Homo sapiens: one gene and its partner. The protein of the gene in region 2 interacts with the protein of the main gene of each other region in a pairwise test. Each region holds a gene or a part of one and is shown on either strand. Other genes may lie near its edges.

Region 1 (3,748 bases), on a different chromosome or scaffold from region 2:
TTCCATTATTTTAAGATTAATGCCTTATTTTGGCCCTTTATACAAAACTAGATTGCCTACACCATCTTCCACATTTTAATATATTCTGAGCATATACTCAGAGCGTACACTTTGGGATAGCGAGGTGGAAGGATCACCGAGGCCGGGAGTTTGAGAAGAGCCCGGTGACAGAGTAAGACCCTGTCTCCCTTACTAGCCAAATGACACACAGCAGCTCATCCAAATGAAAACAGTAAATAATACGGACGTCCAACATTCTTAAATACTAATTTCAGTTCAGTTCCCTTCTAGATGTTAATTATTGAATTCAGTGTCTCAGTTTAATAATTTCAGTATCTATAAAGTGAGAAGAATAATAGTTTCCTACTTCACAGAGTTCTTGCATGAGCTCAGTGATTTATGCTGTTTGTAAAGACCTTTATACAATTCCAGGCATATACGAGGCACTCAGTAATTATTAGGTATTATTCAACCCTAAAATCCTCCACCACGATGGTGACTAGAACTATTAAAAATTGGATTGGTCTATTTTAGAAAACTTAGGCATTTGTTTTGAGTACAGTTTGGAGATAAGATCCAAGGTATGAAAATTATGACAGATGTCATTATTTAAGTGGCTAATGGCCCCTAACCACAATGAGCAGGTTGTTCCTTGGGGTCTAATTGCAGACTGCTGATCAGACAATCAGCAGAGACATCTGCTCATTTGCGCGTGCACGTGACACACACACACACACACACACACACACACCAAATAACCAGGAAATGGGCAATTTAAGGTAATTATGTTGTGAAAAAGCGCATGGACTGTGTGAGGGTTTGGTGTGCCTCGTTCCATCCTCGAGGTAGGGACGGTTCTGTCCTCTTCCACTGTGCTGAATTTTGACATCCAGCCCCCACACTAATGTAGTGCCCTGCCAGGCACCTCAAAACCAAACTTTAGGCTGGGCACGGTGGCTCATGCTTGTAATCTCAGCACTTTGGGAGAGCGAGGTGGAAGAATCACTTGAGACCAGGAGTTTGAGAAGAGCCTGGGTGACAGAGTAAAACCCTGTCCCTCCTCCCCCGACCAAAAAAAACCCTACTTCGTCCCAGTGCTAAGAGCATTTATTTTGTTTGCTTCAGACTTGAGTTAAGGCTGGATTCCATTTTATTAAGTTTCCCTCCTCCACTGATACAGGAGCTTTCTCATGGCCTTTCCAATAGGTACAGCGTAATATCAGGGGGAGAATAAAAAGATGCCCACTTTCCTGCCATACACCATGCTTTCTTTGGATAGGTTTATTCTAGAAAGAACGGTTTAAAACAAGATCACAATAGAAGATGATTTCTATGAAAAATCATATGGATTAGGCTAGGCGCAGTAGCCCACACCTGTAATCCCAGCACTTTGGGAGGCCGAGGTGGGTGGATCATGAGGTCGGGAGTTCAAGACCAGCCTGGCCAAGATGGTGAAACCCCGTCTCTACTAAAAATACAAAAATTAGCCGGGCATGGTGGCAGGCACCTGTAATCCTAGCTACTCGAGAGGTTGAGGCAGAGAATTGCTTGAACCCAGGAAGCGGAGGTTGCAGTGAGCTGAGATCACGCCACTGTACTCCAGCCTGTGTGACAGAGCAAGACTCTGTCTGAAAAGGAAAAAAAAAAAAAGAAAAATCATATGGATCAAAGTAATTATAATCAACATTGTCAACTGACTTTATTAATCTTTTCAAATGAAGTAGCTGTAAACTTTCTTTGCTGTCTCCATTAATTTGTTGTTTTTAACATTAGCTAAGGTATAATGGAAAGAGAACAAAAAGAAGGGAGAACAAAAGAAGGGGAAAGAAGGGAGCTAGGGCCTGCCTTCTCCTGGCTCTGTCACTTGCTAACGGTGTGACTTTGGACAGGGAGATGTCCCCTCTAGGCCCTGGTGAATTAGGGAGCTTGGCAAAGTACTCCTAAGGCTCTTTTCAGCCCTGAGCATCCTGCTCTTTAAAGGCTGGGGTGAAGTAAGGCGAAAAGAAAGCAAAGCTGGATGGAAATGGAAAATTTAAAAATAAAAAAATCTTTATTTCCATTTTGTAACATTCAGCCTCCTCCACATTGCTAGACTTTCTCTCCCAGTTTAATATGCAGTTTCCAATAATCAAGAAAAGGAGGAAACACAAATAAACCAAATTAATAATATAGGGACTATTAATCTCAGAAACAGAAGGGATTAACATTTTTCAACAAAAATGGGGTACCAAAAAAAAGAAGAGGTTTTAAAAAAAGTTAGACTACAAAATTTTTTTTGATGAAATCTCAGTAAAATGGATAGTTTCCTAGAAAAGTATAAATTAACAAAATTGATTCCATATGGCACGGAAAGCTTAGACCAAAACCAAACCAAAATAACAAGAAATAAGTTTAGGAAGGAGCATGGTATCTAGCCACTAAAGACAAAGAACCTGGAGTCAGACTGCTTGGGTTCAAATCCCAGCTCATTCTCTGCATGAGCTTGGCCTGGCTATTTAACCTCTCAAAGCCTCAGTCTTTTAATATGTAAGATGGGAACAGTAACTAATTTCGGGACTAGATAAGACAAATATAAATGATAACTACTTCTGAGGATGAAATTAGATGAGCTATGTGAAATAGTTATTAGAACTTTTGGCACATAGTACTAAGCATCCAATGAATGCAAGCTATTATTATTTAGAAATTAAAAGCATTGGCTGAGCCCAGTGGCTCACACTTGTAATCCTAGCACTTTGGGAGGCTGAGGCAGTTGAATAGCTTGAGCCCAGGAGTTGGAGATCAGCCTGGGCAACAAGGCAAGACCCCATCTCTATTAAAAAGAAAAGAAAGAAAAGAAAGAAAGAAAGAGAGAGAAAGAGAGAGAGAGAAAGAGAGAAAGAAAGAGAAATAAATAAATAAATAAATTAGAAGCATTATCAGACTTACCTCCTCAATACCTGTCCAAATGGTTTGACAAATGAGGAGTTTCAAACTTTTAAGGAACACATAATTATTATTCTACAAGCCAATACAGGGCACAGGAAGACAGAAACTCTTGGGTTCATCTCATTTATGAATATGGAGGTATATATATATGGTAATATCAAGAAGTTAGCCCAGGATGTTGAGGAAATTGATTATTACAAAGATGGAAACAAACATTGGGTATTTTCCATGTGCTTTAATCCTCTCACTCTACAAAAATAGACATTACCACTACTTCATAGATGAGGAAACTAAGGCTTAGGAAGATTGAAAAATTTGCCACGTTGCCAGCTGGAAGACTCATGTTTCCTAAACCAACTGACTCAAAATCCTAAATCCCAATCATGTCAGGAAGCTGTCTTTTATATAATACAAATACAATATTGATAGGGCAAATTTTTAAAATTATGATCTTGGTAAAGTGCCAAAATGTACTGGATAAACTGAATACTTATTACTGATTTTTGAAGTTAATAAAAGTATGAGGATTTTTTCTTACTATAATAAAGAATAGTAAGTCAGTGCAGTATTGATTACTGCACCAATAATCAGTATCTGACAAAATGGTAAATTATTTTGCAGCTATTTGAGAGCAAGGGTGTATGCTGCAACCCTTATCCGAAATGAGTACTAGAAGTTATAATTTCTGGAAATGGAAAGTTCCTCCCATCTCTAATAATAATAAGGGTATTGAATATTTACTGAGCATGTTTTATGTGGCAGAAATTTTTATATACATTAACTCATCCAATTCTCACAACCACCCCAGGAGGTAGATACT
Region 2 (3,748 bases):
AAAACCTTTGCAGGATTTGATATGGATTTCAACAAAGAACCAGCCTCTGCGAGGCTGGAGAGAGCTGCGGAGCTGCCATGCCTGAAGTGCAGATGGCTGAACCACAAGTCTTTAGGTTTCCGGAGTTGTTATTGTGGTGACCTAGAGTGTCAGAGCCAGGAGAGCAAGAAAGAGGAGCCAAACTGAGCCCTGAGTTTTCGACCACCCGGGCTCCCACAGCCTGGAACAGACTTCACCTAGCACGCTCAGTGCCAGCCTTCGGCAGGACGCTATCAACGCCCGACTGGTTTCCTGCTCTCATCCTGGCGCCTGGGCCCAGTTGCCATAGTGTGGATCCCATGACTCCTCAGGGAACCCCTGGACTCAGGCACGCGAGAAGAAGACAGCGCTTTGTGGAGAGAATTGACCAGGGACAGTTATGCTCGAGCACACAGGACTTGGGCCTGTATGCGTCCAGCATGGGCCCCAGGATGTCCCTTCTAAGCGAGGGTCGAGGGGTGCTCGCCCAGACGGGATCCCCGGGTCTCTGCTTTGTTAGCAGCTTTGGTGGCTGGTTCAGGAGGTCAGAGAAATAAAACGACTTGTGAACACAATGGAAATGACAGGCGCTCTGGCCAGGCGCGGGGAAGGCAGCCGCCTCGGGAAGCCGACCTCAGCCCTTTCCTCTCTCTCCCTCCCTCCGTCTCCCCCAGAGCCCCGGAGCTCCGAGGTGCACTTGAAGTTCATCTCCACTGCCAGGAGAACGCAGCGCAAACTGTCAAAGGGCTCCCAATCCTTAGGGCGTCCTCCCTGTCTGCAATAGCTTTTTGTAGAAAGGAAATCATCAGAACGATTCTGACTTTCTCCTCCTTTCTTTATTAGAAAAAGAGAAACCGCCTCCTAATACGCCTCAGAGAGAACCAATCTCGCGCTTCCGGGTCACCCGCTACCGCGAAGATTCTCTGGGGGCGAGGGGGGGCATTGGTTTGAAGCCCCTTAAAACGAGGGCCCTGCAGGCGATGCCTTCTTTCCTACTCGGATTTGTAAAGCCGAGATTGCTTAGTTGGAAACCCTGTTCTCCCCTCCCAGGCGCACACAGATCCCCCTTACACGCAAGCAGCGGGCGCTTCCACGCCTCCGCGGGCCAAGGTCACCAAATGCCCTGATTCCATCCCCCACCCGCCATCAATCCTGCCGACTCTGGCCGCTCTGCCTCATTCTCTTCCAAGAAGTTTCCATTCGTTTTATTTTTTTTTCCCCAGCCCGAGGTCCTCAGTAGACTCCAGCGTGGATTTTAATTGCCTCAATCAGCAGTCATTCTCCCCAGCCGTCACTCAGAGCCTGGACGGTGGGTCCCGCGATCTAGCCCTTGGCTACGCAGGAACGGTGCGCCCCCGGGTACGGCGCGGTTCAGCAGGCAGGCGTCAGGTTCTACCAAGGCGCTGAAATGAGCCCATCAGCGGGTAGGAGCCCTTCCCCCGCCGTCCCCTCCCCAGGCTCGTGAACGGCGCCTGATGCCCGCCCGGGGCGCGAGCTCTCGAGGTCGCAGTGACCTCAGCACCTGCTTGGAGGAAAACGGCGCGGGAACCCCGCTTCCTTCCCCTCAGCTGGAGCCAGACCTCAAACAAAACCCCAATCGATGCACACAGAAAACTCCTCTGGGCCACGCTTCCCGCCTCGCCGAGGTCTCCCCAGTCTGCCCCTCGCTGACGCTGGCGCGCAGCGGCTGTGGCAGCACCCGGGACAGCGGCCGCCCGCACTTCCCGCCTCTGGCTCGCCCGAGGACGCGCTGGCACGCCTCCCACCCCCTCACTCTGACTCCAGCTGGCGTGCATGGTCTGCCTCGCATCCTCACGACTCAGCTCCCTCCCTCTCTCGTGTTTTTTTCCTCCGCCGCCCCCTCATTCATCCCCACTGGGCTCCCTTTCCCTCAAATGCTCTGGGGCTCTCCGCGCTTTCCTGAGTCCGGGCTCCGAGGACCCTTAGGTAGTCCCGGTCTCTTTTAAAGCTCCCCGGCTTCCAAAGGGTTGCCACGTCCCTAAACCCTGTCTCCAGCTCGCATACACACACGCACAGACACGCACGTTTTCTGTTCCTGCGTGACACCCGCCCTCGCCGCTCGGCCCCGCCGGTCCCCGCGCGGTGCCCTCCTCCCGCCACACGGGCACGCACGCGCGCGCAGGGCCAAGCCCGAGGCAGCTCGCCCGCAGCTCGCACTCGCAGGCGACCTGCTCCAGTCTCCAAAGCCGATGGCATCTCCGGGCTCTGGCTTTTGGTCTTTCGGGTCGGAAGATGGCTCTGGGGATTCCGAGAATCCCGGCACAGGTAGGAAGGAGAACGGGGGCCTGCGGCGGGCGAGTTTTGCGGTGGTCTGGGGTTTGCGGAACTACGGAGAAGACGAAGGAGGTTTTTCCACCTGCAACAGGAAACTTCTTCGGGCGCTTCTCCCTGCTTTTGGGCTAAGTCCTTGACGGCCCAAGAGCTCAAGACCTCTACAGCCTCTTGTACCCTGGGAAGACGCCCAAATAGTCTCAGGCCCGTTCCACAGAAGGTTGGAAGAGCCCCCCAAAGACCGCGGTGTCTCGGGGACATGGAATTCCGTGGTCCTGGGGCGCTGCTAAGATCCGGGTGTCTGGACCCTGGGGTGGGACGGAGTGACCGTGAAGATAGAAAAAAAAAATGGGAAAGGTGAGAGATTTCTTTATCTAGAAAGACAGTCTGCGAAAAAATGGATAGCTTCAGTGTTTAGGAAAACTCGTCCAAGGTAGGCAGGGAGAGGAATTTGCCTGAGCCGATTGGCACCTGGAAGGGCAGCGGTGTGGGCTTCTCCTCGGGAAACAGATAAAGGAAATGAGGGCTGGCCCGGGCCGCCAGCCTCCCGCTTGCCTTCTGCACCTGCCGGCCTCACCGAGTCCTGAGCGGCCCCCAGGAGGAAGGCGGCCCCTCCTAGGACCCCGGACTGATTGATTTTCACATAGAACGAAATTTCACACGTCCGTCTGTTGTTCTCTTTCTGCCTCGCTGTCTGCCTGCCTATTCTTCCTTGCAGCGCGAGCCTGGTGCCAAGTGGCTCAGAAGTTCACGGGCGGCATCGGAAACAAACTGTGCGGTGAGTGCCCAGGGACCGGGGCGGCCAAGGTCGGCCCGCGGGGTCCAAGCAGTCTTCTCACCTCCGCATCCCAGTCAGCGGAGTCGGGGTTTCCTGGCTGCGGGTAGGCGGGAGCGAGGGAGCCGGGCCCGGCGGAGGATTGACGAGGCCCGCGTTCGGTGTCCTTACCCAGCCCTGCTCTACGGAGACGCCGAGAAGCCGGCGGAGAGCGGCGGGAGCCAACCCCCGCGGGCCGCCGCCCGGAAGGCCGCCTGCGCCTGCGACCAGAAGCCCTGCAGCTGCTCCAAAGTGGATGTCAACTACGCGTTTCTCCATGCAACAGGTAAAGACTCAGCGGGGAGCCCCGGGGCGCCCCTGCCCCTCTCTCTGCCCCGCCCACCGCGGCCGGTGCGGGTCCGGCGCTGAGAGCCGGACAGGGGCGTCGAGGTGGCAGCGGAGGCGGGACCTGCCAGAATCTTCAGATAAAAGCGAGAAATGCGGGACCTGCCCGCTGGGTCCAAGCCCCCGAACCTGGCCTCGGAGCTCCAAGAGGGCTCTGAGGCCGTGGCGCTCTTCCCCCAGCGCGGCCCTTGGGATGGCGGGTGGCCGACGATCCAGGCGCTCGTGCGCTCACTGAATCGATGACGGCTGGCTTCCCTAGGCCGCTGGGGCCTCGGGTGG

What was found. The genes of interacting proteins can lie anywhere in the genome.
Region 1: the proteins of GAD2 (region 2) and RHEX interact in binary tests that used the Homo sapiens proteins (3 or more experiments, as listed by UniProt).

The regions. Positions count from the first base shown.
Region 1 is NC_000001.11:206,091,173-206,094,920, reverse strand, and holds part of RHEX (regulator of hemoglobinization and erythroid cell expansion protein), read right to left. Parts: intron 1-3,748. UniProt on the Homo sapiens protein: Acts as a signaling transduction factor of the EPO-EPOR signaling pathway promoting erythroid cell differentiation.
Region 2 is NC_000010.11:26,214,582-26,218,329, forward strand, and holds the start of GAD2 (glutamate decarboxylase 2), read left to right. Parts: upstream 1-2,192; 5' UTR 2,193-2,228; coding exon 2,229-2,304; intron 2,305-3,028; coding exon 3,029-3,088; intron 3,089-3,260; coding exon 3,261-3,410; intron 3,411-3,748. UniProt on the Homo sapiens protein: Catalyzes the production of GABA.